Linked DNA regions of Homo sapiens: regions 1, 2, 3 and 5 are each linked to region 4. The links come from fine-mapping of genetic effects on plasma protein levels. A gene starts in region 4. Each other region holds a variant in brackets. All regions are shown on one strand. Distances are between the middles of the regions.

The links. PIP is the posterior inclusion probability: the model's chance that the variant is causal. The UK Biobank Pharma Proteomics Project read protein levels with antibody pairs (Olink). The fine-mapping took linkage between variants from a reference panel, not from the people measured, so its PIPs are less certain.
Region 1: its variant is fine-mapped to the plasma level of the FCN1 protein (UK Biobank, PIP above 0.99).
Region 2: its variant is fine-mapped to the plasma level of the FCN1 protein (UK Biobank, PIP above 0.99).
Region 3: its variant is fine-mapped to the plasma level of the FCN1 protein (UK Biobank, PIP 0.99).
Region 5: its variant is fine-mapped to the plasma level of the FCN1 protein (UK Biobank, PIP 0.95).

The regions. Positions count from the first base shown.
Region 1 is chr9:134,954,738-134,960,882 of GRCh38, forward strand. No RefSeq gene overlaps it. Among named protein-coding and RNA genes, the nearest start is that of FCN1, 40 kb to the left of the region's middle. The variant C/T (reference allele first, on the strand shown) is at 2,648.
Region 2 is chr9:135,033,306-135,039,450 of GRCh38, forward strand. No RefSeq gene overlaps it. Among named protein-coding and RNA genes, the nearest start is that of OLFM1, 51 kb to the right of the region's middle. The variant G/A (reference allele first, on the strand shown) is at 2,867.
Region 3 is chr9:134,962,796-134,968,940 of GRCh38, forward strand. No RefSeq gene overlaps it. Among named protein-coding and RNA genes, the nearest start is that of FCN1, 48 kb to the left of the region's middle. The variant G/T (reference allele first, on the strand shown) is at 2,805.
Region 4 is chr9:134,916,502-134,922,637 of GRCh38, forward strand. FCN1 (ficolin 1) reads right to left here and starts at 1,411. Exons shown (of 9, transcript NM_002003.5): 1 at 1,268-1,411. The coding sequence starts at 1,370.
Region 5 is chr9:134,946,780-134,952,924 of GRCh38, forward strand. It overlaps LOC105376313 (a long non-coding RNA gene), which reads left to right. Exons shown (of 3, transcript XR_930421.3): 3 at 537-2,248. Among named protein-coding and RNA genes, the nearest start is that of FCN1, 32 kb to the left of the region's middle. The variant A/C (reference allele first, on the strand shown) is at 3,011.

The DNA.
Region 1 (6,145 bases), 38 kb after region 4:
CCTCCAGGCTGCAAATAAAACCCACCAGCTGCTTCCTATGCTACTGTCAATGCATCAGCTAAAGTTGGAATCTCAGCACCAAACCCGAGCCCTTTGTGCCTAAGGCCCCGTGGCACAATAACCTCCAACACAGTCGTTAGGGTGAGACCTTAGGAGTGAACAACCCCTATGCAAATGCCCAAAAATGTATTCAGATGTCACCTATGTTTGTACCTGTAGCTGTCACAAATCGTTTAGAAGTGTGCCATTGGGTGGACGGCTGGATGGATGAAGATAGGGGACGATTTCTGATTTAACAACCACCAAGTGTCAGGAGAGAGAAACACAGTCTGCGAGTAGCACTGACTCTGGCAGAGATTTTATAACAATTCATGCAAAGATTATTTATTCAATAAATATTTATTGAGCTCCTATTATGCACTTGGCACTGGGGAAAAACAATGAAGAAGACATAGAAATCCTGTCCTCTGGCACCTAAGCCTGGTGGGTTCAGGGAGATGCATTTGGTTGCCCTGCCAGGGCCTGGGCTTGAGGAGGCCAAGCCATCTCTCCTAGTCATCTGAGCCAGAACTTGGCAAACTTCTCCCCAGCTGAGTGAGTGTGTCCAGAAGACTTGCATTACCAGGGACCCCACCATGCAGCCATGGCTTAGAGTGCCCTGGAGTCTGAGTTCAGGTCCCGCAGTTCAGAGCAGAGGGAAGGCAGCTGGCAGAGTAAGGAAGTAAGGAGAATCCATGCTCACCCTTGTCTCCCACTATGTGACCTTGGGCCTGGGGCTGGCATGGCAGGTGCTACAGCCAGACAATAGAGGCTCCAAACCCAAGTTTCTGTCACTGTGGGAGCTACCATGTCAGAGGAAGGTGATGATTAATGCACAAATATGTATTTTCTCCATCAGTCTGGTCTTTAACCAGTCTCTAGATTCATAATACCCTATCCAGGACAGGGTTTTCAGATGGAGCATCAATAATGCAGGTGCACACACAAATTATGAATGAGTTTGATCCTGGAGCAGTGATAAGTGAGACTTTCTTGGAAGGCAGGGCTCAGCTGACAGCTGTGGGCCCTGCAGTGACTCCTATCTACACTCTGGAGGGCTCCGGAAACCTCTAGCTCTGCGCCCCCTCCTCTGATGCAGTCCACATTGCAGAATGGCAGGCTCTCCTGTCCCTCTGGCTCAGCTTGTCCCAGCTTGGCCAGTCAGCCAGGGGCTACCGGGTGCTTCTGTGCCATGGTAGCATCTCTCCTCCCCTTGGCCTTTGCTGTGGAAGGAGCTACCTGGAGGAGATTGTGGCCTGGGCCAGGGACATCTGTGCCATCACCCTGGCAGGAGGTGAGGAGGCAGTAAAAGGGCAGCCCAGACTGGCAAGAGAGGGGCTGCCCACTTCGGGGGCATCACACCTACAGGAGGCATGTCCTCCAGCACGTGGTCTTCACGCTGCCCCCCGACTTGGACCTCCTTTTAAACTGTACCACACTGGGAAGTCCTTCACCACGGTGGGGCTCACCCTCACCACTGGTCCATGGCAAGGTGGAATAATACTTCCTGAGCTCCTTTTCCCCTCCAACAACTTCAGAGAATGAACAAGAAAGAGTCTAGAAGATGCAGCTGGAGGTGCCATTTTTCCTGGCATGGTGTTAAAAATTTTAAATGGGGCTGCAGTAGCCTTTCCATCTGTGTGTGTCTCTAGCTGTGTGTTTATCTGTTCACGTGTGTTGTGTGTATGTGTGTGTCTCTGTGCACGTGTGTCTCTGGGTTTCTAGGTATGTATGTCCATGTGTATTCACGTGTGTGCATGTGTTTCTGTGTATTTGTGTGCATATGTATGTGTCGATGTGTGTGTGTATGTGTGTGTCTCTGTGCACGTGTGTCTCTGGGTTTCTAGGTATGTATGTCCATGTGTATTCATGTGTGTGCATGTGTTTCTGTGTATTTGTGTGCATATGTATGTGTCGATGTGTGTGTGTATGTGTGTGTCTATGTCCCTGTGTGTGTCTGTGTCTATTTCTGTGTATGTGTCTGTGTGTGTATCTGTGTCTGCATCTCTTTGTGTGTGTGTATCTCTCTGTATGTGTCTGTGTATATCTGTGTGTGTATCTCTGTGTGTATTTCGGTGTCCGTGTGCATGTGTGTCTGTGTGTGTTTCTGTGTGTGTCTGCATGTGTATCTCTGTTTGTATGTGTATTTCTGCGTGTCTGTGTGTATCTCTGTGTGTATTTGTGTGTATTTCTGTGTGTCTGTGTGCATGTGTGTCTGTGTGTCTTTCTGTGTGTGTCTGTGTCATGTTTGTGTGCATTTGTGTCTGTGTGTATTTCTGTGTGTGTTTGTGTCTGTGTGAATGTGTGTCTGTGTGCATTTGTGTCTGTGTGCATTTGTGTCTGTGTGTATTTCTGTGTGTCTGTGTGCATTTATGTCTGCGTGTATTACTGTGTGTGTCTGTGTCTATGTCATGTTTGTGTGCATTTGTGTCTGTATTTCTCTGTGTGTTTGTGTCTGTGTCATGTGTGTCTGTGTGCATTTGTGTCTGTGTGTATTTCTGTGTGTGTCTGTGTGTGTTTGTGCATGTGCACACATGGGTGCTCCAGCCACCGAGCCCAGCCCTCGGGGCACAGAACCCTCTGGGCACAGGGGCTTGGTCTCTGCTTC[C/T]GAAACGGCACCGCCAATGTCTGTGAGTTTCGTGGGTGTCCCTGTGTGATCCCCTCACTGGAAAGTCTGGCTGGCTACAGACATTGCTGCTATTCTCCTGGCAACTGCTGCAAACCACAAAGAGCTTCTTTCTTATCCTTTGGGAGCAGGGGAACAAGGCTTCACTATAAGGGGATTAGGTTTGTATTAGGCTTTGATCAGAGAGGCAGAACCACCAGGAAATGTGGCTGAGGGATTTATTGTAGGATTTGCCCATGTTTGATAAGTCAAAGAAGGCTCTTGCTTCTGTGCCTGGTGTGGCAGCCTAGGGTCAGAAGAGCAGGTGGTGGGGCAGGAGAGCTGCATGTCAGGTTGGGCAGCAGGAGCGCCCTGGAAACTGCCGGGTCGGATGTCCTCTGCAAGGCAGTCTCCCTGTTGCTGTCCCCAGCTTTAATTCTGGGATCCCACAGGAGAAGATGGGGCCCTTCATCAGGTGCTAAATGTCACACCTGTCCTGGGAGTTAAAGAACTCATGGAAGACTATGGCAGGAACAGGGCTGCTGTGGGTCCCCTGCTGCACACTGGCAAGGTGCCTGCCCACAGGTGACAGCATGCAGGGCTGCAACAGCTCCAACCTTCTGGGCACAAAAAGAACATGGCCACTGCTTCCCGCCTTCCCAATTCTGCACCATGCCTCTTGGGGCCAAACTGACCAGGGGCTATGTAGGAAAGGGCATTCTGGGCAGTACAGTTCTGCTTGGGTGGGCTGATGCAATAGAAACCCACCACGGTCTGCCCCTTGTCAACCTGGCACCATATATGACTCACTTAGACACACTTAATGCCTGAATAAAGACAACAGCAAAATCCTTGCTTATGCCTAGCATGAAGCATGATCCTCTGAACAACTGAAAACACACTCTGCCCAGAAGAGGATACAAAACCCCTTCCTCCACCCCTGGGTGACATCTCTTCCTCCTACAGCTAAGTCTCACACCCTTTCTGATATCCTGTGGCCTAAACGCCAAGTATATTTGTTATCTATTGCTCTATAAAAAATCACCCCAAAATCCAGAGGCCTAAAACAATAAATGTGCATGATCTCACCTCTTCTGTGGACAAGAGTCTGGGCATCGCTAAACTGGCTGCCTGTGGCTCACAGTTCCTCGCTAGGCCTCAGTGAAGCTTCCAGCCAAGGCAGTGATCTCATCTGAAGACTGGACTGGGATGGTATCATCTTCCACGCTTGCGTGCATGGCTGTTGGTTTGTGTCAGCAGCTTTCTGCCATGCAGGCCACTCTGTGGGGCTACTCATGATGTGGCAGCCTGCTTCTTTCAGAAAAAGAGCTGCAAAAGAGAGAGAAAGCAAGATACTGCATGCAAGATGGAAGTCATGGTCTTTTTGTGACTTAACCTCTAATCTTGGAAGTGATAACCCTTCGCTTTTGTTGTATTCTGTCCATTCTTTGGATTGAGGTACTATGTCCAGCCCACATTCCAGGGGAGGGGATTACACAGGGCCATAGATACAGAGAGGAGGGGTCATGGGCCCATCTTAGAGGCCGCCCAGCCTGCTGAGAGAGAAGGTCACTACTATCAATGCAACGTATGTTGGATGCAGAGAAATGGAAGAGGGAGGAGAAGTGTGGTTCACATCTACTGACAGATTCACAGCTAAATACGGAATAAGAACTTGTGACTGTTACACCTCATGTCTCTACCTGGTCATGCGGCCATAGCTGTCCCATAACTACCCTCCCTCGTGACTGTCCATAGTCCCTGTGCCCTAGCAAGGCCCTCGGAGGGTCGTGCTTCCTTGTTTGGTGGGGTGACCCAAATCTTCATTCCCAAAGGATCTGAACGTCTGAAACCTGCTACCATTTTGGGTCATTGTTGACCATTTCAATGTGGTTCATAATCATCCTGGAGAGAAGGCAGGTGCCTCGGGGCCCAGGTAGTGGGACTTCAGGAGCCTGTGTGCTGCCCTGGGGCCTCTGGGTAGAGTGTGGCCTGGCCTCAGGTGCCCTGGGGGGTCTTGGAGTTGGGTCAGTAGAGGGTCTGAGTCACAGCCACCCCGTCCTTCTGGCCCATCCTCCCAAGACCATCTCTGGAAGGTTTTCCCCTGGTGGGTGTCAGATGGGACATCCCTGAGGAAGACCTGGCTCCAGGTGGAGGCGCCCCACGCCACCTTGGTTGTGGCGGCTGCCAGTCCTGGCCACAGCCCCAACCCCTATGAGGCACCAGCATCCTCTTTGGTATCCACAGAGGTGGCAGGAATCTGTCCATCCACACCTTCATCCACTCATTAAGCAAATGCGCGCTGGGGCTGACTTCTCAAACTGTGAAAAAGCCACGTGGGGCTCTGCCGTGGTGGGGCTGCCACCCCAGGGGACAGGACAACCCACCCTTGAACACATACTATGTGGGTCCATTTCAAATTGCAACCAAGGCCCTGGACAAAACAAAGCGAGGTGGCTCCAGAGCATCACTGCCAGGAGGGGCCTCCTTCGATGGGGGCAGCAAGGTGCTCTCCAAGGACCCATGGATGGGCCTGAAGGAAGAGGTCTCAGGAATAAGCAAGCCACAGACACACCCTGCAGGCAGGAGGAGGACGGCATGAAGGCTGCAGGTGCAGGGCTCTGTGCTCAGCTGGATGGGGCTGAGGGAGGAGACCCATTCAGATGCTGGGGCCTGCTGGGTCGAAGGCCAGTCAGCTCCTCTTGCTCTCAGCCAGGCCAACCCTTGAGGGTCTCAGACTTCACTGTTCACCACTCCGCTACACACAGGTAGCCTGTGAAAGTCACTTCTCTAGATCCCCAGGGACGTACATCCCGCAACGCTAGCTTGGGCGGGACCTGAGTGCCAGCTGGGTGGCCAGAGGTGGGCGAATTTAAGGCAGATGGCAAAGCCATTCCCACCCCAGGGCCACTGGTCGGCACAGCTGGGCACAGCCCACCACCTGCCAGACCTTTCAGAGGGAATGCATCTCCCTCCAAGCCAGGTCCCAGCTGGGATCTTCCAGCTGAAGAGGTTTCCTTGGGCAGAAGCGAGAAGCGAATTGGAAGAAAGAGGCCCTGACCCTCCAGGAGGCTCCATTCTGCCTGTGGCCCTGAAAAAAGAGAGCAGGAAGGAGCAACTCTCACTTCTTCACAGCGACTTTGAGAAGTGGAAGACAGGGGCCGCTCCCCGGCTACAAACAAGAAGCCGATGGAAACCAACACCGTCCCCTCCAGCCTCATCTCCTCGCTCTTCAGAGTTTGCAGGGAGATGCATCACGAAGGCCCATGAAGCTGTAAAGATTAGTATTCCAACCCGGGCAGCAGGGTTTTAATTAGTCATTAGGCCCTTTCTGCAGAGCCATGCTGAACAGGCAAGGGCAGGGTGACCTTTCTCCGCCCAGCACTGTGGCAGCCTGTCTGCTTTGCAGGTGCACTTGGGACTCTGTCAAAACCGCTAAGAGGAGAGGACTGAGGCTGGGCCGGGAAGGAGGCCCTAGCCTCTCTGTTCCTGGGCATGGCC
Region 2 (6,145 bases), 120 kb after region 4:
GCAGCAGAAGAGCCCCAGACCCTAAAAGCACCCACCGCTCTGCCCTGCCTCGGGCCTTTTGTCCAGTGGTCCATGAGCTCTGGAGATGGGCCGGCTCGCGGGGTGAATTAATGAGAAGGTGAGAGCAGCGTGTGTCATGTCTTGGGGACAAATCTGAGCCATAAAGGAACAAGGTCCTTGTAAAAAAGGATAGGCTACTTGGGAATTGGGTTGTTAACGCATTAGCATCTTTATTTGGCCCATATGAAGTGTGTGAAATGAAGGTGGCAGTAAACAGGAATTTATTTTTCGAAGTGGTCTTGGCAGAACAGCATAAGGTGCTTCTCCCGCGGCCGGGAAGGCCCCCCTGCCCACATATGCACACCCCTGCTCTCCCCGGCAGCCTTACCTGGCCTGCCCAGCATGAATATACTCCTTCCTCCTGTTTCCACCCCCATAGTGGCCGAGAGTGAGGCTGTGTCCCATGGACTCACTGAATCTCAGCACATACTAGGTGGCCACCCTCATTATCCCCATTTGCAGATTGAGAAAACCAAGGCCCAGGAGGGAGGGAGCTTTCCACTGTCACCCAGAGAAGTACCTGACCCCACCCACCACACCATCCCCTGCCTCTCCTCTTTGCTGACACCCCCAGCCACCCTGTCCCCTGCCTGTCCTCTCCGCTGACCCCACCCGCCACTTCGTCCCCTTCTCCACTGACCCCACCCACTACCCCATCCCCCTCTCCGCTGACCCCACCCGCCACCCCATCCCCTGCCTCTCCCCTCCACTGACCCCACCCACCACCCCATTGCCCTTTCCGCTGACCCCACCCGCCACCCTGTCCCCTGCCTCTCCCCTCTGCTGACCCCACCCACCACCCCGTCCCCCTCTCCGCTGATCCCAGCCGCCACTCCGTCCCCTGCCTCTCCTCTCCACTGATCCCACCCGCCACCCCATCCCCTGCCTCTCCTCTCCGCTGACCCCACCCACCACCCGATCGCCCTCTCCACTGATCCCACCCGCCACCCCATCACTCTCTCCACTGATCCCACCCACCACCCCGTCCCCTGCCTCTCCTCTCCGCTGCACCTGAATTTCCACACTGCATGTCTCGTGGAAGATCCCTGGGGCACAAGCCCCGTGTCCTCTTCTGGCAAGAACCACTCAGAATCTCAAAAGACGGTCGCTTACTGAGCACCTGCCCTCCCTTGGGCTCTATGTTGGCTTTTTGTAAAATTGTGATAAAATGCACATGACATAAATCTACCATCTTCGCCATTTTAAGTGTACAGCTCCGTGGCACCAAACACACTCACATCGCTGTGCAGCCATCACCACCACCCACCTCCAGAACGTCTTCATCTTTCCGAACCAACACTCTGTCCCATCAAACACAAGACCCCATTCCCCTCTCCCCAGCCCCTGGCACCCACTTCTCTACTTTCTGTGTCTGTGAATCTGCCTACTCTGGGCACCTCGCAGAATGGGAGTCGCGCAGTATTTGTCCTTTTGTGTCTGGATTGGTTTACCATGGTGTCTTCACAGTCTGTTCGCGTCGAAGTGTATGCATCAGAATTCCCTTCCCTTCCAAGGCCCACGGTCCATTGTAGGGATGGACCACATTCTGTTTATCCGTCGCGCACTGATGGACGCTGGGGTTGCTTCTACCTTTGGCTGCTGTGGGTCCTGCTGCTAGAAATGTGCATGTACAAATATCTCTTTGGGACCCGCTTTCAATCCTCTCTGGTATACGCTCAAAAGCAGGATTACCAGCCGGGTGTGGTGGCTCACGCCTGTCATCCTGCTTTCAATCATCTTGGGTATACGCTCAAAAGCAGGATTGCCAGCCAGGTGCGGTGACTCACGCCTGTCATCCCAGCACTTTGGAGGCTGAGGCAGGCAGATCACCTGAGGTCAGGAGTTCGAGACCAGCCTGGCCAACATGACAAAACCCCGTCTCTACTAAAAATACAAAGAGTAGCCAGGCATGGTGGCGGGTGCCTGTAATCCTAGCTACTTGGGAGGCTGAGGCAGGAGAATTGTCTGAACCCAGGAGGTGGAGGTGGCAGTGAGCTGAGATTGCACCATTGTACTCCAGCCTGGGCGACAAGAGTGAAACTCCATCTCAAAAAAAAAAAAAAGCAGAATTGCCAAATCACATGGCAACTATTTTTAATTATTTGAGCAGCTGCCATCTTATACTCCCATCAGCAGTGCCCAAAGGTTCCAGTTTCTTCGCATCTTTGCCAACATTTATTTTCCGCTTTATCTTTTCCTTTGGCTATCCTAATATCTCTGTCTGCATTTTGTACATTATCTTATTGACTCTTTTATTCCCTAAAATGGGAAAATAATAACTTTTTATTTTGCTATTAACCCCATTTAAAGATGAAAACCATCAGGACAGAGGGGCTGAGTGTTCTGTCCCACACAGGAGTGGCCGGTATGCCCCAAGCCAGTTCCCTCAGCCACTCCAGGGCTCAGCTTCTGGCCAAGTGAAGATCCTTCATTTCTTGCAAAAGAGGCCCTCAGTGCTGTCTTGTCAGATGAGAACACCCATGAATAAATGAGTGAGTGAGTGAACACCTGCGTGTATATAGGACTAGCTGGAGGTCACTGTGGAAAGTGGCTGGTGGCTCCTCCAGGTGGGCCCAGGCCATATGATGTGACCGCCATGGGGCCTGGGCAGCATGGTCCAGGGAGGATACTTCAGGAAGGAGCCCTGGGAAGGGAGGTGCAAGGGAAGCAGGAGCTCCACGTTGCAGAAAAGATGAGCAAACTCACCTTAGGGCTTTGAGCAACCTAAGCCAGACAATGACAAGGACACCAGGGCCAGAGGCCAGGGAAGCAAACACCAGGGGCAGGGGGCAGGAGAGTCAGCAGA[G/A]TGGGATCCACCGTTTGGGCCTCCCGAGAGGCCCTGGGCTAACTTTCTAGGACAAAGGAAGAGAAGACTCTTTGATAAAAGGGAAAGTAAAAGGCAGCTCTTGGATCAATAAATGAATTAGTTGACCTTGATTTGCAAACCAGTTTGCTTCCATCTGCCTGGAGTATATTAACCTGCTACCCTGCAGTACCTGGGATTAATCAGCCTTAGTACCCCACCTGCCCTGCTCCAGGCAGGTTTATGTGTAGGTGGAGGAAGATACCATTGTGAGGGAAGACAGGGATGCTACCTGTCTCTAGAGCAGGTCATACCGCAACGCCACATACGCTTGTCCCCATTCTCTTTGTGTGGGGTGGGCAACTTCCAGAAACGAGCATTCGGGGCCCGCACCCCAGGTGGCCAAAACCTCTGCTGAAACACACCCAGCGTGAGTGTCTGGAGGAGGGTGGGACAAGGAAACCTGCTGTGGCTAAGAGCTTGGCACAGCTGTCTCATGTACTACGCATCGCTGAGACATCTGTCCAACTGACCTTCATAGGAAAAGATGGTGCAAGAAGGACCAGAAGAATCTCAAAGCTGATTCCCAATGTGGGAGCTGACCTCCTTGTGTCTGCACAATGAGGAGGCAAGGATTGCAGGGCTGGAGATGCACACACAGACACGTGCGCACAGGCACACACATGCACGTGCACACTCATGCAGTGCAGGCATGTGCACACACACACAGGTGTGCATGCACACACATATACACGTGTGTGCACACAGTACACTTGGATCCCTTTGCTGCATGCCTAGAGTGCCCAGGCTCCTTATGTACCCCCACACCTTTCTGGGGATGACCAGTCTGACGTTGGCAGCCCTGATGGTTGGCTGCAGCCTCACACAAAGGAACCCCCATCATGTCTGGATTGATCCTAGTATGAATCCTCAGGGCTGAGCGGTGCTGCGCCCCCATCTAGGGAAGGTCTCTGACTCTGGGGGCGGGGCAGGCTGCTGAGGAGGGGATTCTAGTTGGGAGTGGAGAAGAAGTCTGGTGGTCTGGGAGCAGGGCCAGCTCTCAGGATTCCGAGATGCTCATCTAAATTCAGACCACAGGTCCATTAACACAAACCTCACGGGTTCCATCATACCCCAGGCTATACTACATAGATGGCACCAGCCTGCAGCCAGCAGGCACAGAAGGCAGAGGGGATAGACGGGCAGGGTGGTCAGAAGAGCCCCACCCACACAGAGAGCCACATGGCCAGTGCTTGGACCACTGTGGATAATGCTTATTGAGAACCGACTCTGTACCAGGCACTGCTCCAGGCGCACCTAGATCCAGGACTTCCCGGCCTACAGACTGTAAGAAAGCAATGTCTGCCGTTTCAGCTGCCCAGTCTGGTATCTGTTTTGGCTGCCCTAGGAGGCCAGGACAACAGCCTCCCCCAGTTCTCTTTCTTGACGTTTGTTGTTGTTGAAGGAATGGAGTCATCTGCCCTTCGCGCGTCCTGCAGTCTGGAGCTGGCTGGCTGCACCCGTGCTGTCATCTGAACGTCTCTCTGTCCCCTGGATCTCCTGTCTGAATGTCTCTCTGTCCCCTGGACCTCCTGTAAGGTGCTTAGACCTAGAGGCATGATGAGAGCGGGGCGTGATTTTTAGGCAGGAGCCCTTCATGGGTGGAGTGGGCGCTTCCCACTGTACTGCCTCGGGAGGTGCATGTGACATCCTGTTGCCTTTCTGTATGGGGGGAGATGGCATCACCCTCGCTCAGTCGTTATAAAACCCCAGCAGCCTTCCTCCTGGAGCTCTCAGTGGTTTGCAAAGGAGGGCGGCTGTCATGGTTCCACTCTGAGCTTCTGAGCTGGAGGACTTGTGTAAAGAAGCTTCCCCCGAAGGCTCGGTCCCTGTGGGGAAGGAGAGGGGTGCTTGGCTTTTCCTCGCATTTATCAGTTTCCGGAAGGATGAGTTGGTGCCCCCGCGCCCACCCCAGGGGACCAGTGTGGCTTTCTTTAGCTTAGTGATGAGCTCATGAATTTTCAGCACATTTGATGTGTTTCAATCTATTACAGTTGTTATTTTTATGCCCAAATTGTCACATCATTGACTAGTGGGAGCATCTTCAAGCTGTGTCCTTTTGAAAATGTTGTTTTTTAAAAAAATCTTTATTACTCCCTTATGAAGCAATTTTCAGTTCCTACAAACTGAAGTCAGACTCCGACGCGGACCCACAGGTCGTGATCCCCATATTCCTCTACATCTAATCCATCTCTCTGATCTAATCCACGGACACTGTGTCCCTCCGATGTTTCTGGCTCCGATCCTTCTCACACGGCCTTTGCAGGGGCACCGGCTTCACCACGTTCTCAGGGGCTGGGCTGGGAGGATCCCACCCAGGCTCTCTCCAGAAACAGCTCAGTGAACTCGTGGCTGCAACCCCTGGGAAGTACACAAGTAGGGAAACAGGACATGCACGTGGCCCTCAGCTGGGCCCATCTTCGTTCCTAGCAAAGCCTGGCAGGTAGAGTGAAGTCAGGTCTTAGTGGCTTTTCTTTTTCTTTATGTAGCAATTCTTATCCCAGGACTCCATTATCAGAAAAAGAAATGCATCATTTTCTCAATGTTATAAACACCCACTATTCCCAGGAGAGCTCCGGGGAGAACCATCACAGTTTCCAGCCTCTGCTCTTTGTATTGGATGGAGATCACCCAGGGCTCCTTGAGGACAGCATGGATAGATTGTCATGTTTGGGGCTTTCTTGGGACAGAGTTTTCTGTGGTTTGTTTGGCCCTGCCAAGCCTCAGATTGAAATCTGACCCTCAGTGTTGGAGGTGGGGCCTGGTGGGAGGTGCTTGGGTCCTGGGTGCGGGGAGTCCCTCGTGAATGGCTTGGTGTTGCCCTCCAGGTAATGGGTGAGTTCTTGCTCTAGGAATTCCCAGGAGAACTGACAGTTTAAAAGAGCCTGACACCTCCCTTCCCTCTCTCTTGCTCCCTCCCCTGCCATGCAACACGCTTGCTCCCCTTCCCCTCTCACCATGAGTGGAGGCTTCCTGGGGCCTCTACCCAAAGCAGATGCTGGTACCATGCTTCTTGTACAGCCTGCAGAACTGTGAGTCCAGTAAACCTCTTTTCTTTGATGAATTACCCAGCCTCACTATTCCTTGGTAGCAGCACAAACGGACTAAGGTAGGTCTTCAGAGGCCCCACATTTTCACTCTGCTCTGGGGCCCCCTGGGCAAAAGAGCAGACACTTATGCTCCAGGTGGATGCATGCACGAGTGTACCCAGCTGGGAGCTAC
Region 3 (6,145 bases), 46 kb after region 4:
AGAGAGTTTTGCCATGTTGGCCAGGCTGTTCTCGAACCCCTGACCTCAAGTGAGCCACCCACCTCGGCCTCCCTAAGTGCTGGGATTACAGCCATGAGTCACCGCGCCCGGCCGCTCCTTAACATTGTTGAGCTCCCCTTTCCTCCTCTGCGTAATTAGTAAGATCTCTTCCACCTGCCTCATGGGCTGACTGAGGGAACAACCCAGACAGGGATGATCATGACGGTGCTGTTGGCTGACTGTGGGGCTCGACACTGTGCTCATCACTTTATGCATCTGAGATGGAAATGGTCTCAGCCACAGGCACAGATGGGGAACCCAAGGCAAAGAGAGGTTAAGTAACTTACCCTTGGTCATGCAGACAGTGGCTGAGCCCGAATTCAGCCCCAGTGTCTTTAACTCCAGGTGTGAGGGCAGCGGCTCCAGCACGCGAGGCCCCAGGAGCCAGGCACTGCTCACAGCACCAGGCGTGACCGCAGCGGCTCCAGCACGCGGGGCCCCGGGAGCCAGGCACTGCTCGCAGCGCGGGTCGCTCACGTGTTCTTTGGAGGCAAATCCATGCGGCGTTCACACACACGGACCTTGCAGTTGCTTGCGCCTTTTTTTCTCTCCAACTCATCACAGGGCATGACTTCTCTCCAAGCTGCCTGAAATAAAATGAATAACTTTTTATGTGAAGTTCTTCGTGCTGAAGAGAACTTGTTCCAAATGGGGAATAATTGGCCTTCCAGGGCTCCATACCGGCAATGAAGTGAAAGATGCTGACGTTTCAGAGGTGTGGAAATAAAAGGACTAAAAATGGGATTCGGAGCAGCTAATGAGGGCAGATCCGCAGGGTTTGAGAGACAAAATGGGGATCGCAGGTGGAAGCTGGCACCGCGGCCAGGGGCAGCCCACGCAGCAGCGAGTGGGGCCGAGGTCGTGGGCGGGTGTCCGGACCCTCATCACAGGAACTTGCTGGAACCCCCAGAGGCCCCGGCCTCTGCTGGCTTTGAGGCCTCAGACCTCCCTAGTCCAGTCACGAGCCACCGAGCCCCCTATACGAGTCTGCTCAGCGGCTGTATGAAGCATGTTATGTTTGACGAAGGATTAAACACCAGAAATGTATTGTCCCCGGTTCTGGAGGCTGGAAGTCTGAGATCAAGGGGCTGGCAGGGCTGGTTCCTTCTGAGACCCCTCTCCCTGGCCTGTGGGTGCCATCTTCTCTCTCTGTGGGTGTCCATGTCTTTACCACCCCTTCTCCTAAGGACACCAGTCCTATTGGATTAAGGTCCACCCTAATGGCCCCATTTTAACTTAGTTACCTCTCTGAAAATCCTACCTCCAAATACGATCACAGACTCCAAGCTGCTGGGGTGAGGACTTCAACATGTGAATTTGGGGCGAGGGGCAGCTTGGTTCAGCTCCTAACATGCATGTCAGCCACGCTCTCACTCACTCATCCTTGTTTTGATTCGTTTACATGGTGCATGTCTCCGGTGCCTACTGTGTGCTAAGCTGGGCCAAGACAGAAGCTGCCTGCCAGGAGCCCAGTGCCCAGTGGAGGAGGAGGGATGGAGCAACAGGGCAGTAGGACGGGGTGTGGCTGTGCCCCAGATGGGGAGGAGTTAGCCCTGGCCCCATGTGCAGTGCAGCCTCCGGGTGCCCACCGCTCTGGGACTACAGAGTAGCTCCTTGGACAGTCATGTCTTCAGAACTGAGAGCTGAGATGACCCAGTTGGCCCATATTAGGCAGTTTCCAGTCCAGGAAAGGAGGGGGTGGCATCAAGACCTGAGCTCTGGGGAGCACATTTTGGGGTCCACATTCTTGCTTTGCTTGTGGAATGCCTGCAGGAGCTGGAGGCCACGCCACAGAGCCCTTGGGAGGAGAAACGGCCACGTGTGGAGGGCAGTCTGATGGCAGGTATCCACGCTGAAGATACATGTGTCCTTTGAACCAGCCCCCAGTTCCCTGGGAGAATGTCTCAGATCCCTAGGCAAAGGCACAAAGATCTGGTGTGTTTACTGCTGTAAGAGACAGCCCCAAACCTCGGCAGTTTCTCCCAACATAGAAACCCACAGAGCGATGCTGTGATCCAGGTCCTGCCTGCTCCATGGTACCACCCTTCTCTGGTTCAGCAGACAGAGAGGGAGAGAGCGTGAGGACCACACATGAGGGGTTTTATGGCTGACCAGAAGCAGAACACAGCACTTCCTCTCACCTCCCATTGACCAGACTCCAGTACACACAGGACCGCCTGAGAAACATGTGCACCGGGGGAAGAGAGCGTGGTTGGAACACCAGCCATCTCTCATGCAATATTTATCTAAATTCTAAAATAATTGAGCATTGAATCCAACTGGAACTCCCTGTAGGTGAGGGGTTAAAGACATTTAATGGTGTCACCGGGCATTTGTCCATTATTCACTTACTCAAGAAACATTTATTAGGGCATCATGTTATTTGAAATATAATGCCTAAAATATCAAAACTAATGACACATATCCACATTTCCAGATGCAAGACCTTCTCCTTGACATGTTTAAATGAAAAGATCAGGATTCAACATGGGTTGTATACTATCATCCAATTTATAAAAATTAAATATTTATATCTGCAGGCATAAGCCAGCATAGAGAAATATGGAAAGATTTTCACAGAAATTCTAAGATATGGCTACCATTTCTTTGGTAATCCTCACTTCAAGAGGTGGAGTTCAACTCATTTCCCCTTGAACGTGGGCTGGACCTGGTGTCCGGATGGGTTACAGTGTGGCCTCAGAGTTGGTCAAGCCTGGCATTGCAGCCTCTTCCTGCTTTCTCTC[G/T]TGCATCACTGGCTCTTGGGGAAGCCAGTTGTCACATTGCAGAGACCCAGGAACAGCCCTACCAGGGGCCCACATGGTGTGGACTGAAGCCCTCTGCCCATGGCCAAATGCACCAGCTTGGAAGCAGCTCCTCCCACCCCAGTTGAGCGTTCTGATGAATACTGCCCTGGCCAACAACTTGACTGCAACTTCATGAGAGACCCTGGGGCAGAAGCACCCCAATTCCTGACCCACAGACCCTGAGATAAGAGATGTTTCTTGTTGAAACTTCTATGTTTTGGGTTAATTTGCTGCATGGTAGCAGATGACAAACACACCATCTTTGTGAGGTGATGGGCGGTGACGCTGGCCAGCCACAGCCTTCCCCCATGCTTGCCCTCTGTGTCCACTCAGAGCAGAATCTGAGAAACCCCTGGATCTGGTGCTACCAGGCCTGCCTCCCTGTCGTGCCCAGCCCTTCAGCCATCCCTTTGCAAGGACACATGCCTTGGTGAGTCATTGTAACTATTGCCTCTCCAAGGCCCAAACCCACAGGGACAGGCATCTCCAGCATGGGGCACAGCAGAGCCCTTAGCAAATTCTCAGCAAATGCGCCAAGAAGGAAGGCCTGCAGGCTTCTCTTTACTGTGCAGCCTTCCACGATGAACACGCATGGCTTTTAAAACTGGGGAAATAAAGTTTCTAAAGTAATCGAGCTGATCCAAGGACTCTCACTGATAACTTGAAAGGCTCCACAATGAGCAGGAAGACTCATGGTGACCAGTTCCTGACGCAGCCTCTAGGGAGGTAGCTGAGATGCCAGGGTGGAGCCGCCCTTGCCTTTCTCGCCTCCTAACTGTCTGGACGCAGGGTTGTTTGCCTGGAGTCAAAGAGGGTAAAAATGGGTTTGTTGCTTGGTAAGAAGACCAGGTGCCAATGCACCGAGGGTGAGACAGCAAGCCTAACAGAGCCAGGTGGGCGTGTCCTCCCCTTCGCTGGAACTCCTGCCTGCTGATATCAAGGTCGTCCTGAAAAGGCCGCTAGGGAGTTGGTCTTGATGCGCCTGTGGGCCGAGCAGGTGTCTAATAGCCTGAGGCCGCTGCCTATTTAAGAACCACTTTTCCAAGCCCCCATTTCTCCCATGACAAAGGGAACTCACGGGTGATGCCTGAAGGCCCTGTGTGCCATGGTGGCCAGCACGGTCCAGTCTGTGACCTTGTTCTGGGGGATGGAGAGAGGAGGAGGAGGGGGATCCCAGCCACCTGGAGCCTGCAGCTCACCCATGCCTGCCCTGCATTTAGCAGCCACAGCCCTGGCGGGGGACAATGGCCTTGCCGGGATTGGTGGGCAGTGGCACCAGAAGTCTGGGCTGGTTGCTACCCTCTGGTGGCCCTGGGCCCTCCTTTCTTGAATGTTCGGGCCAGTTCCCTCCTCTGTGCTTCAAGGCTGCTGGTGGACTCTGGGCTCTGCAGATGCCACATGCAGTTCTGGTCTCGGGAACAGCTTTGCAGCTGGGCTTACCTGATGTGAAAGCAATAAATGAGTCCCCCAGTGCCTCCCAGCCCAGACTGGGGCAAGAGGGGTTGCCCAAGGGGTTTGCAACTCACGCTGAGAGCAGCCATCCTGAGAAAAGCCTCTAGCTATGCTGCCCAATTACGCAGCCTCCTTGGGGGCACTGGGCCATCCACATCCCTCAAGTCCCTCAACGGTGACCCAGGGACAAGCCCCATGCCCCCCTCAGAGCCGCTGCACGGATGAAAAGAGGGAGAATGTCCCACGGCAGCGCCCCGCGTGGGATCGCCGGACAGGGGTGCCTTCGCAGGCCGCTGTAGACATGCAGTTTCACATTCATGCTTCACAATTGATCTGTGGGCTTCGTGTGTCCTCAGCTTTAGGAGATACGTCCGGGTGCCCCTCAGCAGTGCCTGTGCCACTTGCCCCCCAAGGGGCAGTCGACCTTCCTGTGCACCCTCAGCTCGTCCTGGTGGAGAGAATAAGGCTCCCCGAGGTGACCCCCTATCTGCGCTATTACTGCTGCCTTCTCAGACCATGAGAAGGAACCCTGAGAAAGAACTTCTTCAGTTTAGAGGGAGTGCGTCTGCGTCTGCAGTAGGCAGTAGCAGCAGGCAGTGGCCTGGGCGTGGGCAGTTGCTGTCAGCTCAGAGCAGGAAACGGGCAGCTGAGGAGGCCAGGCTCCTCGGGCATCTGCGGCTGCGTCTGCCCGCGTGGACATGGGACTCTCTCACTGCAGCCCCAGAGCGCAGCCTCAGCAGAACCAGCCTGCTCACAGCAGCCTCCTGTCTGATTAATCAGGGGGAGGAAGGGCTGCCCATAAGCAGACTCATTTTATTCTAATGCTGCTTTCTCAAGATTTTAATTTTCCATAGTGCTACATTCTAGTCCCCTTTCCTTAAAAAAAAAAAAAAAGAAGAAGAAGAAGAAGAGATATAATTGGGACAATCCTCTATCATATACATGCTATCTTATTCCACCTCGAGGTCTGCTTCCAAAAAGCAATTGTGTGCTACTTAATGGACAAGCACTCAGTGACTATGGGGGTAGAACAGAGCTCAGATTTCAAGATTTCAGCAGGATGTGGGCGGCCTGACTGTTCCCGTGGCAGGAGGGACCATCCTCCATCCCAGCTCCGGAGCAGCTGCCTGGCCTTGCGCAGAGCCCTTGGGGCCCTGTCCTGAAGCTGCTTCCCTGGAATTAATTGCTGCAAATTCCGCCCACCCAATGGCGCTGAAAGTGGGCTGAGCACCTATTCTCTTTCACTTGTCAATTGCAGCAAATCCAACACAGGCTTCATGTAATGAAAGGAAATGAAGACGAGTCCAGGTGGGCTGCGGCCAGTGATGCCTCCAGCGAACCAGAGGGAACTCTGGTCCCTTGGGTGCAGTTTAAATGCTGCCACCCTAGGGACAACCAGGACCTGGAATGTGTCTGGCCAGGACAGTGCAGCATTTCCTGACCCTGTCTAGGAAGGTGGAGGGACCGGAGCATTTCAGCAGCCCATCTCTACGCCAGGAAGGGGACTGGGTGTCCAATGTCCAGGTCTCAGTGTCTCACTGACATCTCCCAGCATGGCTCAGAGAGGCGCAGTGAGCTGCTCAAGGTCACACAGCCGAGGAGCAGCAGAGGGGAAGTCCACCCTCTGTGTGAGTCTCCCGACCCGAGCTCACCCCACCACATCGCAAGGTTGCCAAGGCAGCTCCAGCACCAGAAGGCAAGTTGCTCGGTTCCAAAAACAGTCCCTGGGTCCGGCAGCATAGACTTTAGGCATATCCAGGAGCCAGGACAAAGACACTTCCTGAGGGCAGCCCTAGGGCCTCATCTCTGCAAGATCCAATCATCTGCAG
Region 4 (6,136 bases):
CAGTGGCTGGGAAGTGAGGTTTTCTGCTCTGCTGGGGCCTTGGTCTGTCCTCACCCCTCAGGCACTGGTGAGGCGGAGATGTGATGGGGGGCAGAGCTCTGGCTTTGGAGGCCACCCCGACCTAGGGGAGCCCCATCTCCTCAGTGCTGTGTGTCCTGCAGCAAGTAACTTAACTCCTCTGAGCTTTGTGCCCTGGGCTGCCAAGCGGGGATAATAACAAGGTTGCGGCCAGGATTTGGTTAAAGAATGTGCATTTTAAATCTCTTATTGTAATTTATGGCATTTAGAAAGAGCTTAATAAACAGCGGGCACTTTCAATAACTAATGACAATCAATATTTCTAAGAAACTTGGGGAATTGGGGCTGACAAAGCATTTTCCCTCCCAGACCTTGGGAATGTGGTTGTAGAATTACTGGGCTGGAAGGGGCTTTCTAGGTCCTCTGGAGAGGGGCAGTGTGGGGTCCAAGGACACAGAGCCAGGTGTGGCACAGCTGCAGCCAAACCAAAGTTGTTTACTTCTTTGAAAAAATATTTTTCATTTTGTTCATTACAAAATCTACACGCCCTGCTAAGGGCGCTCTTAGAGACCATGGAACGGAGCAGTGCTCTCACCGGAGACATGGCACTGCCATTTTTGGGGTATTTCCTTTCTGTGTTTCCAGTCCTCCTTCCACTAGAGCAGGCTGTAATTTACTATTTATGTTTCCTTCATAAATATGTTATCAGCCAGGGGCACCAGGCCGTCCTTAGGAGCAGTCTCTTGCTGAGCGTCACAGAACCACCTGCTCCTGAATCAGTGAGGGAAACACCTTACCACCGTTCAAACCCTTGTCCCTATCAACTGATTCCGACTCTCTTGGAGGAGAGCCAGAAATCTGCCTTTTTAACAAACCCCCCAAGTCCGTGTGGCAGCCACCGTATTAGAGGGTCTTAGAGTGCCTCCCTGGTAAGCCCGTAAGAAGATAAAGTCAACAGTATTTTCTTCCTTCTCAGTGACAGATTCCAGACCCACCTATGAAGCTCCAATGGGCAAATCCTGGGCTTTCGAGGCAGACAGACCTGGTGACATCCCTCCCCTATCCCTCCATGACCCTGGGCAATGCCTCAGCTGCCCTGAGCCTCCATGTCCTTGCCTGAGGATAAAACAGATCTGTTGGGCATCTTCACAGGAAGATGTGCATAAAAGGTTTTGCCTGGGACACCCGAGTGTCAGTGAGTGGGGTTGTTACCAGCTTTTAGGGACCAGAAAACCCAGGTCTGTCTCACCTGGACATGTGTCCGCAGCCTGGGCAGGCAGGTTCTTGATATGCAGGAACAAGACTAGCAGGACAGCGAGCCCCCGGGCCATGGTGGCTCCACTCAGCTCCATGCTCTCTGGCCTTTGACTCTGAAGAGTCCCCCAGCTCTAACAGGGCAGAGGAAACCAGCTCTCGCCTTGTGCCACAGTTTCTCAACTCCCTGGGGGACACCCACTTCCTATGGGCTGCTTAGTTGCACCAACAGGAGGTATGAGGTCATCTCAAAGGATGTTTCCTTCCACTAGGCTCCAGCAAGATGCCCACCCCATTGGGCTCTCTTCCCCCAGCAAAGACACCCTGCTCCCAGTCCAGAGAGCTCCTGAGACTCCTCTGCTGGAAAGCATCGGCTTTGCTTGTGGCTTAAGGAGAACACAGCCCCCACACCCCCTTTCCATTCCCCAGCTGTCCCCAAGCAATACTCGGAAACCTTGACCTTAACCTTGGGGGATAAGGAAGGTTTTGCTGAAGACGCTTCCTTGCCTCATCTGTTCCCAGAAAATTCAGGGTTTGTCCGTCATCAGGCACTTATCATGGATGGAGAGGAAAAAAATGTTGAGCACTTGTTATGTCCCAAATACTATTTCCATCATATCATCTTGCACCAGCCCCATTCGGTGGAGTAAATTATTTGAAAGTTACAGCTGGAGAAATTGAAGTCACTCCACTAGTAAGAGCCAGGCATTGGACTCAATTCTGTCTAACGCCTTGTAGATCACTGGGATTGCTCATTTCACCTGAAGGTGGGGATGCCTCTTGTTCCCCCAAATCCCTGAGGCCATGTTCCTACTCCGCATCTCGTGCTGTGAATCATGCTTAGCCAGGCCACGCTGTGGACACTTTGTGCGGGATTTTTAGAACGTATAGAAATAGTCACTAACGAGAGTCAGATGGTAGCAGGACTAAGGAGCAGGGAGAGGTGTTGTTTTGTGGTTTGCAACTTCTCTGAGCCAGCGTGTGTAGACTGGGTTTCCAAACTCAAGGGCTCCCCAGGTGGGAGAGAAGTGGAGGGGCGGCCCAGGGGTGGGGGATCCAGGAGACACAGGACCTTGTGTCCAGGCTCTCTGGGCACCACAACGACTCTCGACTGTGTGTGTTTGTGTGTGTTGGCTCCAGCCTGTTGAGAGACAACGGCAGGAGGCTTCATTGCCTCAGACACCGCTTAGTGTCCCTGAGCTACTGGCCCAGGCGGGAGAGGTCTGGGTGTCAGTGGTGCGGCCTCCTTTCTTGGAGAGGATCCAATTCAGGAGCAGCACTCACCTGGGATTGGGTCAGAACAGGGAGAAAGCCAGCAGGTCTGTGCCCCTCAATTCCATTTGCCAGCTGCCCCCTGGGTGTGAGGGGACCTCCTCTTCCTTGCAACATCAATAGGTTTATTTCAGGTGAGAAGTCAACACCACCTTCAGATATCAAGTCAATGTTCCCAAGAGTATGAAAGAATGCAAGATTCTGGCAAGTTAAAATATCTTAACATTGGATCAACAAAAGTCATTTGATTCCTGGCAATGGCAGTTTAGGTATTTGGGGGCATCCTATTAAGGACAAACAGACAAAACCTTTAAAAAGAGATTTGCTCGAAGGCACCGTCAAGCTAGCTATGTAGTAAAGGATTACTTTGCCAAGCTCTCAGGAGCCACAGAAATCTTAGAGAAGTGAAACTAGTAGTGGGGACCTCTTTTTGCACAGGGATTTGCCAATCTCCAAAAGAGAGGTGAGAAGTTGGGCAGTGATTTCACCATCTTGCAGAGCTGAAGGTCAAAGACTGGGGCCTACGGCCTGCCAAAGGTATGGGTTTGGGGTTGGCTTTCAGAAGGGCTGCACCCTAGCAATAGGATGAGTGAGCAACAACCAACATTCACAAGGGCTGCAAACTGGTTTTGAGACATCTAAGTGTCCCAGGAAAGGAATCTCAACTCCTGGAATTATTGCTCATGCCCCCAGGCTCCTTGCTGAAAGAAACAAAAATCTTCTCTGAAGGAGAATGACATCATCCCAGGTCATTATTTCTGCAAAGTGTTTTATTTTTTTCAAATGAAATGTTAAAACACAATCAACGATAACCAGGCTCATGGGAATAAAAGACAATGTGTATAAGGACCAACAGAAACAACAGAATATAGAAAGAGGTCTTTGGAAGCTGTGGATACAGAAGTTACAACATAATTAACAGGAAAAATGGAAAACCATCCTCAGAGACTGAGAACAAATAAGGATGCTTGTCATCACCACTGTGGTCAACATTGTATTGCATGTCACTGTCCAGTGCAGTAGGCAAGAGAACAAAACCATAAAAAGATTGGAAAGGCAGACACAAAGTTGTTATTTTCAGAAGACATGATTGAGGATGTAGAAAATTCTAGAGTTTCTACAGATAAACTAGCAGAATAAAAAGTTTAGCAAAAATCAATTGTGCTTCTAAAAACTAGCCTCAAAGAATTTAAAAATGAAATTTAAAAAATTTGCATCAGCAACACCAAATTCAAATAACTGTGAATAAGTCTAACAACATCCATGCTGGTCTTCTGTGTACAAAACTATCAAATAGGAACAGAAAGACCTAAAAGAAGATTAAAATAATTAGAAGGATATTCTATATGTGTGGATTAGAATACCAAATATAGGAAAAACATTCATCTTCTCTTAATTTATCTAAATATCCACTGTATTATCAATTAAACTACCATTTTCTGTGACAATTGACATGGTGAATTTAAAATTTATATAAAGGGCCGGGTGCAGTGGCTCACACCTGTAATCCCATCACTTTAGGAGGCTGAGACAGGTAGATTACTTGAGGTCAGGAATTCAAGACCAGCCTGGCCAACATGGTAAAACCCTGTCTCTACTAAAAATACAAAAATTAGCTAGGCATGATGGTGGGCACCTGTAAACCCAGCTACTTAGGAGGCTGAGACAGGAGAATTGCTTGAACCCAGGAGGCGGAGGTTGCAGTGAGCCAAGATCGAGCCACTGTACTCCAGCCTGGACGACAGAGTGAGATTCCATCTCAAAAAATATATAATATATATATTTAGCAGGGTGTGGTGGTACATGCCTGTAGTCCCAGCTACTCAGGAGGCTGAGGTGGGAGAATTGCTTGAACCCGGGAGGTGGAGGTTGCAGTGAGCCGAGATTGCACCACTGCACTCCAGCCTGGGCAACAGAGTGAAACTCTGTCTAAATAAATAAACAAATAAATAAATAAATAAATAAAATTTATATAAAGGCAAGAGGCTGATAGCCATGCTATTCTTGAGCAAGAAAAAACAAGGGTGAGTTGCTTGAAGTGACACCAGCAGTCATTATCAAGCGATAGTGATGGAGACAGTGTGGGGCTGGCTTAGGCGTACACAGCAAACCTAGGGAAGTGAGTAGGGAGTGCAGAAGCAAATCCAGGCACATACGGACCCTAGATTTATGACATGGTGGCTCTAAAGAGCAATAGTGAAAGAATAAACTTTCAATGAGTGGCACAAACTACTGGAGAGTCATATGGAAAAACAAGAAGTTACACTTGACTTTTATCAGATGAAAAAAAAATCCACATCAGGAGAAGGGTAGACCCAAATGTGAGAGGGAAAACAGCAGTTTTAGATCATATTATAAGATCTCCAATAGCCTTGCAGTTATTTTAAATAAGATGGAAAACCACAAACCATAAAGGACAAGTGGAAAAATTGATCATGAAAATAGTATTATTTCTTTTTCAAAATACACCACCGTGGGAGGGAAAAGACGAGCCAGGGTGAGGGAAGAGAGGTTTCAACACACAGAAGTGACAAAAGGCTTGTATCCAGAATAAAGGGTTTCTGTAAATCAACGATGTTGTAGAAAGTGGGAAAGTGACTTCAACAAACGCTTATAAAAGATAATATTTAATAGATGATGGAAGTATGAAAACATGCTCAACTTCATAACTAATCCAAGAAATGAAAACTTAAATCTCATGAGATGACTGCAGACACTAAAATTTTTCTAAACAGCCAACTCTGCAAGGTTTTGGTGAAGAAGTGTCAGAAACCTTGGTACAAGCACTTCGGAAAACTGGCAGTATTCCCAACAATTCCCTACGACCAGCATATTCCATAACCAGCGATGTTCAGCTCAGTTCTACTCAACAGAGAGGTGTGCCCAGCTGGAAAGAAGACACGTGTGAAAATGTCCAGCCCCACGCCGGAAACAACCCAAACGTCCATCCGCAGCAGAATGGGGCCGTCAGCTGAGGTTCGTTCATACTGGAGCATCCTGTAGACCCATAAAATGATCGGATTCCAGCTTCACGCAAAAGCTTTGTTGAAATCCGCAAGCACACGGAGCATCCAGGGCGCCAGCACTAAGGCATGCGAACTGTTCATTTGCATCTGTACAGAGTTTGAAAGTGGGCAAAACTGAACAGCAGTGTGAAGGAATGCATGCTCGGTGGCAACGTGGAGAAAAAGGCCCAGACCATGCCAGTGAGATGACCGCTCCCTTAGCAGGGGCCAGTGAGACGACCGCTCCCTTAGGAGGGGGAGCCCTTAGGCCTGGAAGGGGCACGGGGGGCTGGAGATGGGTTTTGGCTTCATTGGGTGATGCAGGTTTAGTTTATGCACTCTGGTGAATGGGTGTTAAATTTCACTTAAAAGAGCAAGCTTAAATAAACTATTTAAGTAAAATAAATAGAACACATAAGGGTCACCATCGTCCTGTATTGCTCCCACCACAAGCTATAGCCCAGCTGTCTCTGGGAGGTTTGGGGATGTTGAATGCCTGCTGGTTCACTTCCCTGTTGCAGCTCAGGCTTCTGGGAGGTTGAGCAACCCCTAGCCTGGCTGTTGCTTCACGTGCTGGGTCTGCAGCC
Region 5 (6,145 bases), 30 kb after region 4:
ACACAGACACATTCACACCAGACACACACAAAGAGACATTTACACCAGATACACACACACAGACCATTCACTTTAGACAGAGACCATTCACACCAGACACACACACATTCACACCAGACACACACAGACCATTCACACCAGACACACACACATTCACACCAGTAACACACACAGACACATTCACACCAGACACACACAAAGATACATTTACACCAGATACACACACAGACCATTCACTTCAGACAGACACAGATACATTCACCCCAGACACACACACAAAGACACATTCACACAGACACAGGCAAAGACACATTCACACCAGACACACACACAGACACAGGCACACCCCTGCACACAGCCACTGTGCTCATGCATAGCCGGGTACACCTGCTTGCACACTCACACTCGCTCACCCCCACACCCCCCCCCCCGCTTCCTCACCCACTTTCTCTCCTGGTCCTGCAGTGCTTGTTCCCACTAGGTCCCTGGGGGGCCAGGGAGAGCCAGCCAGGCCCGCCACCATTCTCTCCCCGCAGAGCGATGCTGCGTGTCCAGAGCAGCGGGTGTGGGAGGCAGAGCCTGGAGCTCCCAGAGCCGGCGGCCCACGGCCTCGCCTCCAGCCAGGAGGGTGCGGAATTCTCCCCCACCCAGCAGAGGCTCTGGCCATCTGTCTCCAAGGATGCGGGGGAGCGGACCGGCTGTGCCGCTCTAGGGCTGCTCCGCCTGACAGACAGCAGTGTCGACCACCCATGTTTGCTGCACAGACTCTAGCTTCCACACCCCTCCCCACCCCAGCAGCCTGGGGAAGGAAGGCTGGAGGTCCCTGCATGACGGGTGAGGAGAGAGGACAGGAGCCCGGTGCTCTGAACACCGCCCCAGCCCAGCTGCACGTCAGGACCCCGCACTGGCCTCTTACATTGAGAAGCCAAGACCCACCCAAAACCCAGCTATCAAAGTCTCTGGGGACAGCACCAGCAGGGCAGAGGGCGTTGGTTCCCTTAGAATGTGCTAGAAGGCTCATCCCTGCAGGAGGTGCCCCTGCAGGCATCCTTGCCCCCACACTGCCTGGTGCTGCCCACCTGCTCACTTGCAGGTGACCCTAGTTTCTCAGTGGCTCGGCAGCCTCGCGGGCTGTTGTAACACTGACACCACGTCTGTGAGATCATTGGCTTGGAAGATTCAGCTCAGAATTGGATAGAAGGGCCCTGCCCTGCCAGGCACAGCTGCCGGCCCTTGTCACCTGCAGCTGCATGAGAAACTAAGGCTCAAACCAAATCCTTCTGGACAGAAAAGCAGGTCCCCCTCCACTACCCCTTCGTCTGGGCTCTCGGTCAGCGGGGTCAGGGTGGCCGGGACAGTCACTCTCATTTCCAGAGGAGGCGAGAGGCAGATGAAGGCCATGGACAGCAAGCCATGGGGCCACAGCACAGCCTCAGGTCGTTGCTGACACACCTGCGCCTCCCACAGCCCTCCCCAGGAAAGCCGCGGCAGAGCTCACCCCACTCCCAGGGTGCTCACCTGGGACCTCCTCACCTCTGCACCTGCCCTGGGTATCCTCAGCCGTGACCCTGGCCTGGCAGTGCCGGCGGACAGGTTGCAACCAGCCCAGCTCCCCAGGGGTGAGAGGGGCCCATCACCGGCCACCCACAGGCATCCCTGGGTCTGCTTTTTGGAGCAGTGTCCGGGGTTCCCTTCATATCCTTTATATCTATGTGAACCTGACCGGCACACTCACTCCAGGCCCAGGTGTTCTGTAAACACTGAACACCATGCTGTTAACCAAGGTTACGTTAAAAAGTGACTATGTGGCCAGGAAATAGATTTTGTATAGTTATGTGCTGTTAGGATAGATACGGGTTTTCGTCTGCGGCTCCTGGCTTATAACTCCCATAGCACTTGTTCCCATTTGCGTTAGAATGTTGGGGGTGTTGAGCCTCATGGGCAGCCTCTGCCTTCTCCTGCCCTCCTTTCACCTGCCCCAAGGCGGCACCCTAACTTTCTCCTGCCTTTCGGATTGTGGGTCTTAAGACCCTCCCATGAGAGGGTCCCATCCTATGCCATGGGGGAAGGAATGCTGACATCATGAAGCTTCCATAAAATCCCAAGAGGACTCGGTTCAGTGCGGTTCCTGGAGTGTGGCGCGCCCAGCAAGGATGTGGGAGCTCTGCGTCCCTTCCTCCCACTTCGGTCTACGCATCTCTTCATCTGCAATATTCTTTTTCATTAATCTATAAATGTGTTTGCCTGAGCTCTGCGAGCTGCTCCAGCAAATTAATAGAATTGGAAAGAGGGGGTCATGGGAATGCCAACCTGAAGGCGGCCAGTCAGAAGTTCCAGGGGCCCAGACTTGCGGCTGGTGTGTGTAGGGGCAGCCTTGGCGGGGGAGCATCACAGAAGTCTTCTCCTGTGTTGATGATTATTGAGGTGTGAGAGTAGAGGAGAAACACAGTTCAGGTGAGAGGCTTCCCTGCACAAGTTACCAACCATATGACCTGGCACAACTTTCCCAACCTGTGCCCCTTCCTCGCCTACTGGGGGGTAATGAGATCAATGCCGTAGCCTGAGCAAGAGCCCAGAACGGGGCTGGGTGGGTGGGCAAACCTCGAGAAACGTGAGCTCGTATGTGAGGCATATGACAGGCCGAACAGTGTGCCATGTCCGTGGTGCCATGCCCCAGCGTGGCTTTGAGCGCAGTGACTCTCTTAGATTTCTGATTGTAAAGGCCCTGTGTGCTGGGTAAAGAGTTTGGAGAAATGCAGAAAATTTAAAGAACATGAAGAACTGCCCAGAAATAACAACTGTGAACGTTTTGGAGGCCTCTCGTCCTTTCCTGTGTACCTCGTGGCACAGCTACACTGTGCCCTGCCTGGGGTCCCAGAACATGACAGCATCCACTGCCACCCTGACTCATGCCTGTCCTCAGCTGGGCTCCTGCGCCAACCACAACCCCACTCCCCCCTGAATGACAGCCAGTCTGTCAGGATATTCCTCCTCCGCTCAGGGCAGCCCC[A/C]CTGCCGAGTCCCCAGCATGCATTGACTTGGGTACTCCCTACCTTGAGTCAACCATTAGGCCCATCACGCTGATGCAGAGCAGGGAGCCCCAAAGTGGGGCTGGGCCCCCAAGGATTCTTTACTTCACCCAGGAGAGACTTCAAGGGCAAGCCCCTGGTGGGGTGGGGCTTTATTGACGAGGCAGTGTTGCAGCTCCGTGACTGTCCCTACAGAGCAGGACTACCCCACAGGCAGTGCGCTGAGAGGAGCAGCTCAGAGCAGTTGTGCAGTCACATCTATATCTACTTTTAATTACAAGCAGATTAAGGGGTGGTTTATGCAGAAATTTCTAGATCCTGGGGTTATTGCCATGGAAAGAGGAGGTAACGCCCAGGTGTTGCCATGGCAGCGGTCAACTCACACTGGTGGGCGTGTCTTATGGAAAGGTGCTTCCACCCCATCCCTGTTATAGCTGGTCCTCAATTTGGTCCAGCATCTGAGCCCCGCCTCTGGAGTAGAGTGCCACCTCTCCACTGCAATGTGGGTGGGGACAGATCCCCTGGGGCACCTAGCTGAAAGTCACATCCTGCCGGAAGAGCTAAGACCACACCTGTCTGTCTGATTTCTGAAGCTGGGCTCTCATCCCTTGGATCTCTGGCTCCCTTCTTGTCCTAGAGGCGAAGGGGAAGAGCTAAATATTTCGTGACCTTTAGGCCATACTTGTAGAGGGGTGTGCAGGCGGGAGGAACTGAGGCCAGGTTCCGACTCTGGCTGGAGGCCTACCCAGGCCCCTGAGGTTTCTCCAGGGTCAACCCCATGGCCCACTGGCAGCTGAGTCACACAGAGTGATTGCTGGTCATGCCCTTGATTGAGAACGATGCACTCAGAGCGTCCTCCGCTCATAAATAGCAGGAAGCAAAGTACATTACGAGAGCATATGGTACCTCTAGGCCATTTCTGCCTCTGGCCCCGTCACTGCCACAGTGGCTGAAACTCATCTTCTGTTCTGACAGGTTTCCCTAGAAACCCATCAATTTATAGTGTCTATAGCTGGCCTTTTGGAGGCCCCAGACCAAACTGTGTTAGAAAACAACAGCAACAACAAAACTCCTATTTCTCCAAATGGCCCTGGAAGATGCACCGGCTGTGCCCTCAAGACGCTGTGTGTGGGGCATCCGCCTCCCTGGGCGCGTGGAGCTGGCTGATGGCCAGGGTGTAAGGGTGCATACTGGGCAAGGACGGGCTGAGGCAGTTGGCAAGGTCTGCATCACCTCCACCCATCCGTGGTCCCTGGTCATGAAGGATACGCCCATCCATCCACCTTTCTGAAACTGTTGTCAACGCACTCTGAATTCAGGAATGCTCTCCTCTCTCTTCCTTCTCCCCTTGGCAGACTCAGGGCGGAAATGGTAGCTGACGTTTTCCCCAAGAGCGAGGACAAGGAATGACCAAAAGATCATCATCCCAGGGGCTTTGGGAATGTGGGCCCTGCTGCATTTCCTTCAGCAGAAGGGTTTCTTTCCTTCAGTTTCCATCAGCTTTCAGGGAGGACAAAGGTCCCTTTTGCTAACTGATCTCTGTCTCACCCTCTGCAAACCCATCCTATAGGCTGCAGTCATGGCCCCACTTGGGAGTCCGCCTCCTTTCTCTCACTCCTGACTTCCCAAAACTCTGGCTGGTTGTGTGCTCCAGGGAACTTTCTAGGGTGATGGCAATATGCCATAATTTGGAGTTTTAGGGTGGTAGTTACGTGGGTGCCTACAATTGTTAAAATTTACTAAATTAAGATCTGTGCATCATATTGTGTTAAATTGTATCTCAAACAGAAAAGGACGAGAGTGCACCTTGTGGAGGGCAAATCTGTGCCGCACCCCCCAGCCCCGCCGGTGCTCTGGGGTTGGCCTCAGCTCATGCCCTGCAAGTCCTCGCCTGCAGACGCAGCTTGCTTTGCTCAGCACGCTCATGCGTGTATGCCACGGGTCAGTTGAGATCTGGACCATGGGTAGGTACAGAATCTTTCTTGGTTATTGTGATGGTTTTAACAGCTTTGTTGAGCTGTAATCTGCCTACTATCGAATTTCCCCATTTAAAATACACAACTCAATGCTTTTTAGTAACTGTCTCCACGAGCTGTGCAACCATCAGCACAGTCTAATGTGAGAACATTTTCATTGTCCCTTCCCAAAGAAGGCCTGTATTAATTAGCAGTCATTCCCCGATCCCTCACCTCCTCTAGGTCTTACCTGACCCCAGGCCAGCACCAATCTCCTGTCTGTCTCTATGAATTTGCTGATTCTGGACATTTTGTATAAATGGAATCAGACAACGGATGCTCTTAGTGACTGGCTTCTCCACTTGGCAGAATGTGTTCAAGCCTCTTCCATGTTGCAGCACACAATTGTACTTCATCCTTTTTTGTTGCTGCATAATACTCCATGGTTGCTGAATACTATTCCATGGTATTACTTGTCAGTTGGTAGACATTTGGGTTGTTTCTACTTTTTGGCTGTTAAGATCTAATGCTGCTATGAAATTCATGTACAAGTTTTTATGTGAACATGTTTCCAGTTTTTGTGAGCATATACCTAGGGGTGCAATTGCTGGGTCATATGGTAACTGAATAATTAATCTTTTGATGAACTGCCAGGCTGTTTTCAAATCAACTGCATGATTTTACATCCCACCAGCAGCATATGAAAGTTCCAATTTCTCTACATCCTTGCCAACACTTGTTATTATCTGTCTTCATGACTACAGCCATGCTAATGGATGTGAAGTGGTATCTTACTGTGATTTTGATTTGCATTTCCCTGATGGCTAATGCAGCTGAGCATCTTTTCATGTGCTTATTGGCCAGTTGTGTATCTTCTTTGGAGAAATGTCTATTCAAGTCTTTTGCCCCTTTTTAAAAAATTGAGTTCTCTGTCTTTTAATTATTGCATAGTGAGTTCCTTATTATTATTATTATTATTATTATTATTCTTTTATTTTATTTTTATGAGATGGAGTCTCACTCTGTCACCAGGCTGGAGTGCAATGGCTTGATCTTGGCTCACTGCAACCTCCACCTCCCAGGTTCAAGCAATTCTCCTGCCTCAGCCTCCCAAATAGCTGGGACTGCAGGTGCACACCACCATGCCCAGCTAATTTTTGTA